2 separate regions of the Homo sapiens genome follow, and region 2 is linked to region 1. The links come from fine-mapping of genetic effects on gene expression. Tissue or cell type: whole blood. Region 1 holds a variant in brackets; the other region holds the start of a gene. All regions are shown on one strand. Distances are between the middles of the regions.

Region 1 (8,104 bases):
GAGGGAGCTTGAACTGGGTGTCAGATTATGGTTTACTGACCGTTTCATTACAGGTTTTTCAGTATACTTAGAAATTCCACTATACTTATTTTTAGAAATGCCATTGAATTGGGAATTTATTTTTTAAAAGTATAAAAGAAATTACCAAAGCATATAAAAATGGAGGCAGGCTCTCAAAATCATCAGTCGCTTAGCGTCAGTCTCATGCCACCTTTTGACCGACTTTATCTTTCTTCTCTTTCTCGTAACACTTACTCTGTTTGAAGTTTACCATGTTGTTTTTAACTTATTTCCACATCTATTCAGCAAATATTTATCAGGCAGCTGCTGTGTGGCAGGCACTGTGCCAGGCACTGGAAATGCAGGAGTGCAGTCAGCAGTGAAGCCTGGGGGGAAGGCACAAGACACACAGCTCTAGGGATAAGCTGCTGCAGTTGTGTCAAGGGCTGTGTCTCAGCTCGGACAGGAAGGAACATGCGTGACTCAGCCAGGCAGAGGAGGCAGAGTGCTCTTGGGAGAGGGTGTGCCTGTACAAAGGCTAGGAGTTTGCGGGCGGGACGGGGCTGAAGGAATGGGGACAGAGCGTGGGTGGTTAGAATTGAGACTAGAGAGGTAAGTAATGATTTGTAGACTATGTCAAGGATTTTGGAAACTGTCCGGAGAGCATTGGGGAGCCATAAAAAACTTTTGAAGTAGAGGAGTGCCATGACCATATTTGTTATTTTAAAAAGATGTCTTTGCTGTATATAGGGTTAAAAGGCAATGCCAGGAAGCCACATCAGAGGCTACTGTAGTGGTCCAAGCAATGGGTGCTGATAGCATAGACTAGAGAGGTGGCAGTAGAGATGGTGAGACCTGGGCAGGCTTGAGAGAGAGCAGATAGAATTGCTCAGACCTGGAAATTGATGTTGGGAGTGAGAGGGAAGGGAAGTAGCAAGGATAACACCCATGGGCTTCTGCACGAGCTGCTGGGTGCATGTTGGTGCCATGTACTAAGAGTACTTAAGGAGGAACAGGTTTGCAGGAAAGGATGGGCCATGTCAGATGTGTGGCGTTTGGAGTGGCGTCCAAATGGACATGGCACTAGGTCGTTTAAAAGATCTAGAGGTCGAAGGAGACTGTGGGCCGGAGGGAGCACTGGGGAAGGCGTCAGTGTGACGGGTCCTTGCCCCAGCCCATGGGAGTGTATAGAATGACAAGGGCAGAGTCAGGACAGCCCTGAGCACCAGCTGTGTCGCTTCAACTCCGTTCCTTTTTTAAAATGTTAATTCACTAGGAAGACCAATTTCTTTAAACACCTCTCTTGAGACATGAGAAAGAAGATAAAAGTAGAAGAGTTTTGCCACCTCTCTTTGGAACCAAGTGAGAAAGACAAGTGTTAATGATGAGCTGAAATAACTCCCCGTGTGAGTGATAACTAACGTCCTAAATCTTGGTCCCAGTGATTACGACTGAAGCATTCATATGATATGAGCTGGGTATACTCTAGGACACCGAGTTTTTTCATGAAGTTGAAACTCTTGCATGCTGTCAGGGAGTTTGCGACAGTCTAGGTACTTTAAACAAATGCGCTTACTAATTGTGTAATGATGTCACTGAGCTTGGCACCCCATGTAGGGATTCTGTCTTTCCTGTCCCCTATTCCCTGTCCCCCAACCCCTTGCTTCATTAAGACTTGCTGATTCAAACTCACTCTGGTTGAGGTTGAGTGTTTCTCTTTGTTCCAAAGGGTAGTGGCAGGCATATTTAAAGTAACAATTGTACAGAACACTCTTTAATGATGGCCTCTTATTTGAATCATCCCAGACAAAGAAATATTGCTAGATCCTGTAAATCTTCCAAGAAAAGATTTTGCGGATTTTAGACCCACATGTATGTTGTTTTGTTGTGAAGTATCTGGCTTCTCTCAATGTAGGAACTTTTTATTTTATTTTTTTTTGAGAGGAAGTCTGTTGCCCAGGCTGGATGGAGTGCAGTGGTGCTACCTCGGCTCACTGCAGCCTCTGCCTCCCGGGTTCAAGCAGTTCTCCTGCCTCAGCCTCCCAAGTAGCTGGGACTACAGGCATGCGCCACCACGCCTGGATAATTTTTGTATTTTTAGCAGATACGGGGTTTCACCATGTTGTCCAGGCTGGTCTCAAACTCCTGACCTCAAGTGATCCGCCCATCTTGGCCTCCCAAAGTGCTGGGATTACTGGCATGAGCCAGCATGGCTGGCCTCAATGTAGGAACTTTTGCAGTAGCTACGTAAAAAATAGATTCCGTATGGACCTTCCATCATATGCAGAGCCCTCTTGTCTTCCTTTGTAGATTATTCACTGACCAGCGCTGACCTGTCAGCCCTTCAAGGCTTCAACTCGCCAGGAATGCTGTCGCTGGGACAGGTGTCGGCCTGGCAGCAGCACCACCTAGGACAAGCAGCCCTCAGCTCTCTTGTGTGAGTAACTAGAAGTTTTCCCTGCATCTTTACTCCTGGCCTACACACTCTCTTTTCCTATCAGTGACAGCCTTTTGCTCTGTTGAGTTTCGTGTGAGGAATCCTGTAATGATTCCTTTTCAGGTAGATACAAGTGTCGGGAGAAAATATTTTCTTACATGGCTCTAGACAGTAGCTTGGATACTGACAAACTAGGCATTCCTTGAAGGGATTTGGGGAGCAAGGCTTCTCCCATAGGGACATCCTGAGGTAGAGAGACTCAACCAGGATCTGAAGGGGTCTGAAGGCACAGATACCACCCGCATGCACCATCCTTCTGCCCTCTGACCAGTGATGAAGCTGCCTACTGCACCCCTGCTCCCAAGCACCTGCCTCTGGCTGCACTGCTTGAAAGGCAGCCTGTAGGCATTCAGGCCTCCCTGCCACCCTTGCCATTGACTGCTTTGGTGAGTATCTGTAGACAAGAATAGGAAGACAAGCTGGAGCTTTTGCTTTCTCCCTGGGCCACAGGGAAGGAAAACTGGGGACAGGGTGTCTTATATATCAGTCAGGCTCCATAGGATTTGTGTGACTGATCCCAGCCCAATGCACACACCAAACCTCATTCACAAAGAGAATGTTCCGTATGGGCAGGGTGTAAGGATATAAGCAAAGAGGATTTACAGTGGCGCCCAGATGAGGCCAGACATCCCTGACAGCCGGGAGAAAGAACAGGGCTTTTGTGGAACCAGGATGACAGCAGACCCATGGAGCAGTTGGAGGAGAGTGTCCCAAGAGAGGGGACAACATAGCAGACCCAGCTGGCCTCCATGAAGACTGGCTGCCTTGCCTGTGCTCTGGGCAGTAGGAATACCCCAGGCCCCTAGCCTCTGCCCAGGAAGTCCCCAGAGAGCCTGAGCTCAGCAGTCCCTTTCCCTCATCCATTCTGAAGTAACTGCACAGTGAGGATTGTTGTCAGTGGTCTTCTTAGGAATTATGTCATGGAAAAAGCAGCAGAGTATCTCAGGGAAATTTGCCTACACAGGATTTGGCCCTCAGGCCTGTCCTGAGCATCCTAAATGAATGCACTAAAAATAGTCCTGGAAAAGCAAGTGGAAAGGGCTCAGAGCCCAGGCCCGGGGAACAGCCTGTTTGCGTCCTCCTCTACTGCTCTCAGCCAGCCCCTCATTTCCTCATCTGGAAAATGGGGATGGTGCGACTTGCACCTTAGAGGTGTTGCGAGGATGAGCGATGTTGTGCCCTGTCACAGGGCCAGAGCAGATGGGGAGCAGATGCTGAGGAAGAAGAGGCGGTGAGCAGATGAGGCTGCTGTTCCTCTGTCTTTCTGGTCCCTGCACAGCATTAAGACACTGACATTGTTTTGTATACTTTAGCTGCAAAAGTACCAACGTTGTGGGTAACAGAACCAAGTAACGTAAGGGCTCAACGGTACTGTTTTCTTTCCTCCTAGGAAGATGGGATTTCCTTTTGTGCCAAGCACTGAAGGAAACGACCCAAACCAGTCTTGGGGAACTCTGATAAGATTTCAGACTCTGGGCCCTTTTCCATCAGGCAGTGTCTCTACTGTATCATCCCAGTTTTGCAGAGGTACTTGCAAGCCATCTGACCTCTCTCTTTTTTTTCCTTCAGTGCTGGAGGGCAGTTATCTCAGGGTTCCAATTTATCCATTAATACCAACCAAAACATCAGCATCAAGTCCGAACCGATTTCACCTCCTCGGGATCGTATGACCCCATCGGGCTTCCAGCAGCAGCAGCAGCAGCAGCAGCAGCAGCAGCCGCCGCCACCACCGCAGCCCCAGCCACAACCCCCGCAGCCCCAGCCCCGACAGGAAATGGG[G/T]CGCTCCCCTGTGGACAGTCTGAGCAGCTCTAGTAGCTCCTATGATGGCAGTGATCGGGAGGATCCACGGGGCGACTTCCATTCTCCAATTGTGCTTGGCCGACCCCCAAACACTGAGGACAGAGAAAGCCCTTCTGTAAAGCGAATGAGGATGGACGCGTGGGTGACCTAAGGCTTCCAAGCTGATGTTTGTACTTTTGTGTTACTGCAGTGACCTGCCCTACATATCTAAATCGGTAAATAAGGACATGAGTTAAATATATTTATATGTACATACATATATATATCCCTTTACATATATATGTATGTGGGTGTGAGTGTGTATGTGTGGGTGTGTGTTACATACACAGAATCAGGCACTTACCTGCAAACTCCTTGTAGGTCTGCAGATGTGTGTCCCATGGCAGACAAAGCACCCTGTAGGCACAGACAAGTCTGGCACTTCCTTGGACTACTTGTTTCGTAAAGATAACCAGTTTTTGCAGAGAAACGTGTACCCATATATAATTCTCCCACACTAGCTTGCAGAAACCTAGAGGGCCCCCTACTTGTTTTATTTAACTGTGCAGTGACTGTAGTTACTTAAGAGAAAATGCTTTGTAGAACAGAGCAGTAGAAAAGCAGGAACCAAGAAAGCAATACTGTACATAAAATGTCATTTATATTTTCCAACCTGGCATGGGTGTCTGTTGCAAAGGGGTGCATGGGAAAGGGCTGTTGATATTAAAAACAAACAAAACAAAAAAGCCCCACACATAACTGTTTTGCACGTGCAAAAATGTATTGGGTCAAGAAGTGATCTTTAGCTAATAAAGAAAGAGAATAGAAAACACGCATGAGATATTCAGAAAATACTAGCCTAGAAATATAGAGCATTAACAAAGTAAAATTAATATATTAAGTTATAATTGGAATATGTCAGAAGTTTCTTTTTACATTCATATCTTAAAAATTAAAGAAACTGATTTTAGCTCATGTATATTTTATATGAAAGAAAACACCCTTATGAATTGATGACTATATATAAAATTATATTCACTACTTTTGAACACATTCTGCTATGAATTATTTATATAAGCCAAAGCTATATGTTGTAACTTTTTTTTAGAGAATAGCTTTATCTTGGTTTAACTCTTTAGTTTTATTTTAAGAGGGGAAAACAAAAATATCTTGCAAGCAGAACCTTGGAAAAAAAAAGCCATGAACACTTATTCTAAATGTAAATTAAAAGTTGAGCCAAACTCTTTGTGTATATAGCATCTTAAATATATTATCACCTTTGATGTAAGTACCTATGTATTGTATGGTCACCAGATTAAAAAGTATATTTTTGTGGATTGCCGCCAATCTGGGGGGAAAAGGCGAGGTCCTTTATTAAGTATTCACTGTTTAATATTTACTATTTTGTTAAATATACTGTACTTTGGATTTTAATTATTAGCCCAGTTTTTTCAGAGGATTGTATAAAGGGGTTTCTCCCCTCACTGGTGGTGAATGTGTGATGTTACATTGTAATCTTTGTGCTGTATGGGTTGAGCATCATTATATATTTTGTATGTGTACATAAATAGCAAAGTGGCAAAAAAAATTGGTGTTAAGTTCATCCTGCATAAGTATAAAATGTGTTGTAACAGATTTTGTAAGGCATTATTTAAAACTTGCCTTTTGTGAGGAAAAAATGTAGTAGAAAAAGCTGACCTAATTTAATTAATATTAGAGAAAATGGCAAAATAGTAGATGAGCACAAAGGTTTTATAAGTGGTAAATGATTAGGGGAAAATAATCATGGGGAAAGGGATCTTTTTTCCTTGACCCTCTGAAAACAGAACGATGCAGCTGGTTACAAAATCCTACCGTTATCAGCTCTTCTGCACATTGCAGTGATGCTTTGGTATGCGGGGAGAAACACTCTTAGGGTGCTGGTCCTTGGCATGACTCTTGCCATTCTAATTGGAATTAGTGCCACCCTCAGCTTGGATTTTGAACAAGGCCTTATTCTTTCAGGAAGACAACTAATGGATGATAGCAAGTTCATCCACTTACTGGGCTTGTGCCATGAGCAAAATTCAAAGTCCTGTATATCTTTCATTGTAGATTTTTAAATACTCCTTTTCCTAAAAAACTCAAGGGTTTAAAAATTGCTATTTTATATTTTAAATGATATTGAGCAGCTACCTACAATTTCTATGTACATTTTGTTCCCCCCCCCCCACCCCCCCCCCAAATTACGTTCCTTTTGACATTTTCCTCATCTGCTGTTTGTGACAAGTCATCAGCCAGATTTCCTGACTGACACATAGGTATGATCAGTGCAGGAGAGACCTGCGCACCACAGGCTGCAAACTGGAGGTTCTGTTCTCATGGCAGTTTGGGCAGTAACTTTTGAGAGAGGCCAAAAAAAGGAGGATGACATGCTGTCTCCTCTCTTCAGTATAGACATTAGGCTCTTATTCAGAAAGGATTTTTCTTTAAAAATGTACTTACTTTACTGAACTACTTACAGGCACATTTCTTCATAAGGCCACACCTAATCCAAACAAGACAGTCTCCCAACACTGAAGTTCCAAAATAATCCTTACCACTTTGTAAACCATTTATAGCTTTGAAAGTGTTAAGTGATTCCTTCGTTATTATTTATGCATGTTCATGAACTTCTGCTGTACATTGGAATAGGAGTTAACACATTCACATTTACTGTCTATTTTCTTGTGTGCCTTATGAGATGGCTTTTCTGACTGTATCTCAATAGTCTTTCTTTCTATGCAGGTTTATAATCAGTACAACTACTGTTTTCTAAAATACTACTACTCAAGGCTCGGAGTTTGTATTTAAATTACACTGACCAAGTAACAATGTATTCCATTTCAGGAACTGAATATTTGACTGTTAACCTTTTTCCCATACGTCCAGTGTGGCATGGAGCATATGGACTTGACAGACATCTCTCACCCAGACGCCCACGTGTGAACACACCCACATCCACATCTCTGGGTGGAAACCAGCCTAGAGAGGGGACGACGCTAATGGTGTTGCTTTAGAACCGTCTTTTCTTACCCTTTTAGACTCGTGTTTTGTATGAGACACCATTGCAAGAAAATTTTATCCCTCCAGAAGTATTTTATTACTAAAGAACAAAAGCAAAAAAAGCTTAAATTGCACTGGTTAAAGTACAGTTTCCAACAGCTGTCCTTCCTCAGTACTCTAATGGCCACTCCACCGCGAGTGGAAGTCACTGTTGTGTGTACACAGGTGGTCCCAATCAAAACTCCATCTTTTGAGCCCAATTATGTCCATTTTGTTATAGACTAAATCAGGGGTTTGTTCTACAAGAACAATACATGTTTTACCCTTTCCTTTAACTAGAAGGATAACTAGTAATGCATCAACATAATTTCTGTATTAACCATCATGCGCACAAGAAATACATAGTAAATAAGGAAGCTGAAAACTCCTGGCATTGGATCTTAAGCTAGATGATTAGAATGTGAAAAAGATTTTACAAATGTAAAACTTCTATTTCTCTGTAGAAACTTTCTTCACTTTGCTGTGCAAGAAGACACTGCTTTGCTATATTTAAAATGGCTTTTTTAAAAGAGATTTATGTATTTGGTAAATGTTTGTAGTCAACAGTTCACACAAGAAGCTGTACACGGTTTGATCATGTAAAACCGTTTGGCGGCACAAGCTGGACTTTGTTGCCATCCTTGAGATGAACCTTTTAAGAAAAATAAGTTAATCTCAATTTTTCCCTGAATGTGTTGTTTTTCTTCATTATACAATAAATATAATAGTGAACTTTTTATCAAATGGTGAAGACAATGCTAAAGG
Region 2 (8,099 bases), 150 kb before region 1:
GGTCAGCAAGCCAGTGAGTTGTGACTTCTAAACAGCTTTCTATTTTGCCCCTGCTTTCTCATTTGTATCAGGAAACTGCCTTCATTCAGGTCCTCTTTCTTATCTCAGGTAGCATCGGCATCAAATAGGTCCCCTGAGAAGTAGACTCCCAAAGATTCTGGTGAAGGTAGAGTGTTTGGAAGGTGATCCCAGGAAGTGAGAGAGGGGAAAGGAGAAGAGGTAACAGAAGTGTGCAAATGGGTAGGTCACCACTGCTGTCAATGGGTGCCCAATCTACTGGGACATCCCATCCCTCCACAAGAGACTTGGGGGAGCATGCCTCAGAAATGTCTTCCTGAGTTTTGAGGAAGCTGGGATATTTATCTACGAAGACCAGCCCTCTAAGCTAGAGCATGCTCTCAAACACAGACACACAGGAAGTCATCAGCATGTGTGGGAACTTTGTGAAGATCTTTGGAGATGAGGGCGGGAGGGGGTCTGACAACATCAGTACCTCCTAACTGGTTGTTTTGCCTCCAGGCTTGCTCTCCCCACCAACCACTACTCCCTAAGTAGTCTTTCTAAAATGCCAAATAGCTCAAGCTCCTCACCTGCTTAAAATCTGTCAGGGGTTCAGAATAAAATCCAAATGGCTTGATCTTGACATGTTAATGATCTGCGCCATCTCATTCCCAGCTACTCTTTTAGCTGCTTCCCAGTACTCAATGCAGACTCCAGGCACACTGTGCTAGCTGTCGGGTCTCAGAGCCACACTCGAGGTCCCCGCACACAGCGCTCCCTCTGCCTAAGGTCTGCTCATAAATATTTAAGAAACATTTATTTGATTTTCTAGGACATTCCAGGCATTGTGCTAGACACAGTGAATACAATAAAGAATAAGTTACAGTTTTAGTCTTCAAGGAGCTCACTCTCTAAAGGGAGGAAACAGACATACAAAAAGAAATACACTATTCGTTGAGTAAAACCCCATATTAGAGAAAATGATGCCTAAGTGGAGACTTGATGGATTGACTTGATGCAGAGTTTACCCTGCAGACAGGAGGAAACGGGCTGGTGTGTACAGAGAAGCTTCTCAAATTTCTGAATGGAGAAAGTGGGGTGTCAGGAAGAAGAGGTGAGGGAGAAGCTGGCCAAGTCGTCAGGGGTTCCTTTGGCTTCTAGGCAGCTTGAGCATTATTCTTCTCATCAAGACACAGTGAGGGCCCTTTTTTCATCCTACCAGGAGGTTTTCCAGATTCACTGTGGGCATTATGTCCTCTAAGAAGCCTACCCTAATTCTTGTCCCTCCTTAGACACTCATCATCTGTGCTCTTCCTGCACTCTAGGAAACCCCTCATGATGGGTTGTGTTTTAAGGTGTATCCTCCCCACGGCCTGCCAGCCCCTTTGAAGAAAGGGCTGCTCTTTCTCACCTCTGTATCTCAGTGCCTGGCCCAGTGCACAGTCCCTGCAGCTCAGAAACATCTGGACCCCTGAGTGCCTTTAAGGAGGCCAGAGGGGAAAGACTGACAGATGCTGCTCCTCAGTTCCCTCCAAGCCAGTGGCACACGTAAGTGCTCGGCACAGGGTCTTTCTGAGCGCTCGAAGTTGCTAGAGACGCTAGACTTCAGGTATAGGTTTTCAACAGCTGAAACAGAGGCTGTGGCAATTTCCTAAAATTGGTTGCTTTTACTACAAATAACAGTGATTGTGCTCTGCTAATAGCTGTGCTCCACAATTCTTAAACTTAGCCTTCCACTTTTCCTTCTCTCCTTCCTTTCCTTCCTTCCTTCTTACCACTGCCTGCAATTCTCAGACAAGGGCTTTGACATGCAGAGTGGTGGGGAGAGAGGTGCTCTTTAAGGTGATGCAAACACTCTTTTCATTTCTGCTGTGGCTGGACTCATAGTTGAGTTCTCTGCTTGACATTTTGAGGGTAACAATAGCATTGGAATGGGTAAGGGCTGGGCAGTCTGAGCTGAGTCTTCTGTGCCTCAGGAGGCTCAATTTCTGGAAGGGTGGGAGCCGGAGTGGAGCAATAAGGGTGAAAACATCTTTTGGAACAGTCTGTTTTCATTGCCTCTTCTTCCAGGGTGACAGCAGGTGGCAAGGAGAGGGCCACTGATCACTGTGCCCCCACTCCAGACCCTAAGTTTTAAAGGATAAGTATTAAACTCTTCTCGTCCTCTTGGAGCAGAAGAGCCAAATCCAGCCGGCTCTGCAGCTTCTGGCAGGTTAAAAAGCATGCATTTCCACATGACTTGCTGATTTACACCACATTTTGACATGTTTTAAAAACCTCCCTGCAGTTCCTTTTGCTGGCTCCCCTGAACACTGGTGTTGTGGAGCTCTGAGCAGAGCTCCAGGTTTATTTTCTGGCGTCTGCTGTCTATGTGCCGCCTTTGTTTTGGGCTCTCCCCAGCACATTGCCCCGTTGTCCTTGAGGGAGGAAGCCAGCCAGTCTCTGGCTTCCTTTGTAACTTCCCAGTTCCTCCACTCACAGCCTCTGCTCATCTGCTCACCCACCCCAACCACTTTGTTTTAAGTGCTGCGGGATTGAATTTCTCATCTTCAAATGCAAACAACCATTTGGCTTCGTGTCCATTACACAGGCACCTCTGGGGGCACATGCAGGCACTGTGGCCCCGAAAAACTCTTCAGAGGTGAGCGGCTTTCAGGATGAGAGGGCCAACAATGGCTCATCTCCTAAAGACCTCGATAAACATAATCAGTAGCCCCAGAAAACACAACAGCTGTCCCAAGCCTATCCCCTTTGCACCTATCTCAGAAAAGGCAACATGCAGAGTGGTCAGGAGTTCAAGTCCTCAGGGCCCTACTCTGAAGCTGTGACCCTGACAGGTCACTTTAGCGCTCAGCTTCCCTTTCCTCATCTGTAAAATGGGAATAGAAACTGAATCTGCTTCATGGGGCCTTGTAAGTATTACATAAGCTGTCATATGCAAAATGTCCATCACATAGTTCACCGCCCCAGGCATCCTAGAAACTATTAAGTCACGATAAGGAGGTTGCTACTGTCCTGGGACCTGGGGAGCTCGGCTGTCCAGTCCGAAAGGGCCTTCTCGCCCTCGAGACCCCTTCAAGTCCCTTTCTCTCCGGGCCCGGGTCCCAGAGTCCCCTTGTGCTTGCTCCTGAGGGTGACCTGCCCGTGCCCCGGGGCGAGCACAGGTGCGGCCCTGGCCACAATGCGGGCGTGGCGAGCCGACACCCGGGGAGGCCAAGGGCGCCTCGAGGGAGGGAGGGAGGAGGCTGACCCGGGCGTCCCGAAGGACCCGCCCGGCCCCGGACTCCGGGCGGCAGCCGGCCTCGCGCCCCGCCCCCGCCCCGGGAGCCCCGCCCAGTCCCGTCGCGCCGCGCCGCCCCACCGCCCGGGTTGGCTGCCCTGGAGGCCACGCGCGGCGATTTGCCACGCGCCGCGTCACCGGGCCGCTCCCGGCCTGGGCTCCCGGGGGCTGGTCAGGGAGGTGGCGGCGGCTGAGCGGCGGAGCGGGGGCGGCAGGGCGCGACGCCGCCGGGCCGCCCCGCCCTGGGAGGCGCCCGGGCCCTCATCAAGTGACCAGTATCCCTTCCAGGGGAACACGGTCCTTCAGAGGAAAGCGAGCTCCAACCCGCGGCCCCGGCGCCAAGCCGCCGTCATCTTCTTCCTGTGCCAGGTGATCGTCTCCTCACCCACCCGGAAAAACATAGTCCGCCCCCACGTCCTTGTGGAATAGCGCCCGCTTCCAAGCACCGTGACTCTCTTTGCCCTACCCTTGTCTTTCCCATTCCAATTACTCTAGAACCCACCGAGAGGATAATTCAGTCCTGAAAAGAAACTGATGGGGAGAAGCGAGGAAGGGAACCCAGGAGGGAGGGGAGGCAGGGCTGCGGAGGGACACCGAGGCGGCGGAGGTAGTGCGCACGCGCAGCACAGAACGAGTTCCGGTCTGGCCGAGGCTTGTCTCCTAAAAATAGCCCCGGTGTGGGGATCCGTGCGCGGATGTCCCGGCGAGTCCCGGGCTGAAAGAGGCGGCTCCGGGCGGCGCGAAGCGCTGGTGGCGGGCCCGGGCTGCGGCGTGTGCGCGCCCGCCAGCTGCTCCGGAGATACGGTGAGGGCCGCGGGCAGCGGGGCTCAGTCCGCGACGCCGGTAGTGCTGGAGGGGGGCGGCGTCTCGCTTAGGGGACCGAGTAGGGGTTGGGGTGGAGGTGCTGGGGCGGGGGACGGCGCGGCCGAGAGGGTCGCCCGGGGGGCTCCGGGGACCCCTGGACGAGGCCGTGTCCGGCTTGGAGGGGGCCAGGGTCGCGTTCGCGCATTGGCGGGGCGGGTAGGGTGCTGGGAGGCGGGTAGGGTGCTGGGAGGCGGCGAGGGGTGGTCGGGTCGGGGTCGGCGCTGAGGAGCTAGGCGCCCGGGGAGGTGGGGGCGGGGTGCCCTGAGGGCGGGCCGGTGGGGCTGGATGGGGCTCGGCTGGGCGGGCCGAGGGGAGCTCAGTCGCGCGGGCTGGTGGCGAGCAGCCTCCCCGGGCGCGCACCCCTTGGGGCCGGGGGGCGGTGGTGGACGTCGCCTCCTTGAAAGTTGAAGGAGTTCTCGGGAGACCCCGGAGAAGGTGCGCTCTGAGGGCCCTTTCCTTCCCCTTTTCCCTCCAAGCCCGGGGGTCTCCCCGAAGGGATTAGCCCCAAGTGCGGGGGGCCTTCTGCCCTGTTGGACTTGAAGAAGTTCCCCCACTTCTGCTTTGGGAGAAGATTGGTCTAACGGGGTGGAACGCTTAGGTACGAATTCTGTGAGTGTGTAGATGTCAGTGGCGGGGTCGGTGTTTGGGGCGGACACCTGCGGTTGCGGACGCCCGATCGTGCGGGGAGACGTCGCGGGGACAGAGGGGCTGCACAGGGAACCGCTGGCTGAACCCCTGCCATCCGGCTAGATCCCAGCTCGCAGAAAATATTTTTTGTGTTAGAAACTTTGCTTTTTGGCTCGATTTCATGCCTTTGAGCTGTGAGGGTTAAAGTAAGTGAGATAGTGCAAACAAGTTTGGAAAAGGTGAGCAATCCTGAATAAGAAAACAGTTTTTCTTTAAAAGTGTAACTATAGAATTGTTGCTCACATCCGAAATAGATTCCGGAGCTGTGAAGCGAGCCTCCTGTTATGGTCCAGCAGGGAACCGTGTGTAGCTTGAATATAACATAGTGTTAACCTGCGTTTTAGTTTACAGTGAGATTGGGATTCCAATAAATGCCCTATTAGAAAGGCCTGCTGTGATGTGTTAACAATAGCATATGTATTTTTAAACAAACATTGTCTTAACATTTTTTCGGGTTTTTAGCACAGTATGTTTCCCATGTGTCTTGTATCATCTATTACTATATGAAGAGGAGGTTCTCTAAAGCTGTAATTAGGTGTACATTACCCAAGAGTACTTTCCCTTTAAGAATCCAGCTGTGTTGTTTTGGCAACTGCTAAGTACTCTAGTTGTCAGTTTTAGAATCTGTGTTACCTTGGCAGTTCTTGAACAGTCTGTGGAAAAGGTAAACAAAATAGTTCTTTTTTAAACATACAAAAATGACATTTCTTTTAATATGAATTTAGGAAGTGAGGATAAAAATGACTGCATTGTGCCTTTATGGCTTTTGTATGTACTGTGTGTGTGTGTGTGTGTGTGTGTGTGTGTGTGTGTATTTTTGGAGAGCTCAGTCTCCATTTCTTTTTCTGTAAATTACAACTTTTGTTTTAGGGAATCAAGAGTTTTCACTAAAGCAGATGCTGATTTAGATTAGTTTATATTAAATGTCATAAACACACACCTGTATATCATAAAACATTAAGATCAGTATTTGTTATATATGGTGACACATTGACAATAGAATCACCTTTATTTTAATTCTCAGTGAGCATTGTTGCAAAAAGTTGTGATAATGGTGTTACAATAATCAAAAGTACTCTGAAGAGCTAAAACTGGTGATTTGAATGTTTGTAGACTCTAGATTAACAGTTTTGTTGAAGAGTGTGGTTCCAGTAGCTACTTAGTGAAAACAGTGACTGTGAAGTAATGGTGACCTCTCTAAACGCAATTATTTGCTTACCTATTTCCTTTAATTCACACTATGGTTATATATAAAATTGTGGTTTGATTTCATATTAGAACAAAAGTGTTAAAATTACACTTTACTTGCCTTCAAAAGTTTTTTAAAAAATTAAATTCTGGGGGGTGTTCAGTGGAAGGAAAATAGCTTATTGACACCCAGAAATAATTGTAATGTCACCATGTTGAATTATGGTTTGAGAATAATTTCCTTCTGTATTCTTAGAGTTTGTTTTCATATGGGTATGTGTGACAAGGATTTTTTTTTGTAAATGCAGTTGGAAATAATCTCTTAAAAAGGTTGAGTTGTTTCAAATGGTGATGTTATGTTTTTCAAAGCAATTTCGTTACAATTTGCCTTTTCCATCATGCATTGTGGGTTAATATTAATTTTATTAATATTCCAGCAATAGCAGTGTCATCCATTAATTGGCTACCAAAAAGAGGAATATTGAATTATATTCTGAGGGTGGTTAAGAAATTATGGAAATGTTTATTAGAATATGATTTTGGAGTTTGAAATAGTCTAGCTAAATCTTTTCAGTAGATTTGTGTTCTGATTTAGGAGGAAGAAGCCATGAACAAATTTGTTACTGAAAAATAGCATGCTTGTCAGTTTGGAAAACCATCTTTTTTCCTCCCTTTGCTGCTTTTAGTCTGGCAAGAAGAATGTAGTGTAATATACGATGATGATGGGCCTGGATTTGGGGGCATTTCTAATTTCACATATTCTGTGTTGTCATCAGACCATACCCCGGTTACTCATGGTACATATGAATGTTTCAAAGTCTAGCTGAAGTTTTCTTTTATGCGATGACACTATGAGAAAACCATTTGTGGACCAAAAATGATCACTATTTCTTTTTTCTAGATAAGAAAGAAAATCTGTGGATTCTTAGTAAATGGAGAAGTGAGTGCCTTCTCTCCTAATGTTTAAATAATAAGTGTAAATATGGAAATCAGATCACCCTTTAAGCTGGATAACCTCGTGCAAGAGAATGCTTTTAACATATGCTGATTTGCAAGCCCCAGTAAAGGAAGGCTGCTTGACTCTGTAGTCAGATCTTGATTCAGATCCAGCTCCACTGCTGACAGAGTTGAGATATCTCCTGTAAAATGAGATAGAATTACACTACCTGCCCCGTGTTGGAATTAAATGAGATAGCGAGTGTAAAAGTTCTAACACACTGCGTGAAGCTTCATGTGCGAAAATGCGTATTGCCTGATCTCCCTGCATCCCTTCTGGCTTTTGTTTCTTCTTTCCTCTGAAGATTATGTAGGTACCCTGCCCAGTACCCATACGTTTAGTGTTTGTGACCAAAAGGATTTCGTATAATGTATCAATAGAGAATGCTTAATGTGTTTGTTTTGGATAAAATATCCCAGCATCTTAAATTCATTGTCAGATTATACATAAAACGCTTAATTGGCTGTTTTAAAACATTAGAATTTTGATCTTCAACCATAGTTTGTTTCTAATCTCCATAATCTCCCCAAATATTTTTCTAAAGATTCAAGTTAAATATAAATAGTTTCCCAATCTTCAGTGAATTCTGTCTTTTAGGGATTGACTGTGGGAGTGGTCTCTAAGATATAGTATTTGAAATTTAAAGTTAGAAGAATACTTCTGTAATCTACCTTGAATAGGTATTTTAAAATAGCTTAATTTCTGAAGAAAAGTTTTTAAATATTTTAATATTGAAGGTTATTTTAATATTTTAAAGTAACTTTAGTTAATCTGTAATTTTTAAAATACTTTGATTTGGTGTGAAATTAATGATTTTCTCGTGTATAGTTTATCTGTGTGCCTTATAATAAATGGACCTTGTGTCCAGTTTATTATAATTAAGAGTGTAAATCCATTTGTTAATTAGTAAATCTTACACATAGCACACGATATAGGTTGGTACTTATTTAATAAGTACTAAATTTTTATATAGATGCTTTATACTTTAATAATATTTATATTTACAGAATTTAATTGATATTTACTGAATTTAATATTTTAATTATTAATTATCTTAGTCGAGATGAAATCATAAGCATATGA

What was found. PIP is the estimated chance that this variant, and not a neighbour inherited with it, causes the effect.
Region 2: it holds the start of MEF2A, and the variant in region 1 is fine-mapped to the expression of MEF2A in whole blood (TOPMed, PIP above 0.99).

The regions. Positions count from the first base shown.
Region 1 is chr15:99,708,324-99,716,427 of GRCh38, forward strand. MEF2A (myocyte enhancer factor 2A) reads left to right here. Exons shown (of 12, transcript NM_001319206.4): 11 at 2,311-2,437; 12 at 4,067-8,104. The coding sequence ends at 4,448. It also overlaps a transcript of LYSMD4 not described here. Among named protein-coding and RNA genes, the nearest start is that of LYSMD4, 21 kb to the right of the region's middle. The variant G/T (reference allele first, on the strand shown) is at 4,277.
Region 2 is chr15:99,562,021-99,570,119 of GRCh38, forward strand. It overlaps MEF2A (myocyte enhancer factor 2A), which reads left to right and starts at 3,964. Exons shown (of 12, transcript NM_001319206.4): 1 at 3,964-4,084. RefSeq lists silencers at 3,135-3,574, 4,415-4,464 and enhancers at 3,286-4,261, 4,262-5,235.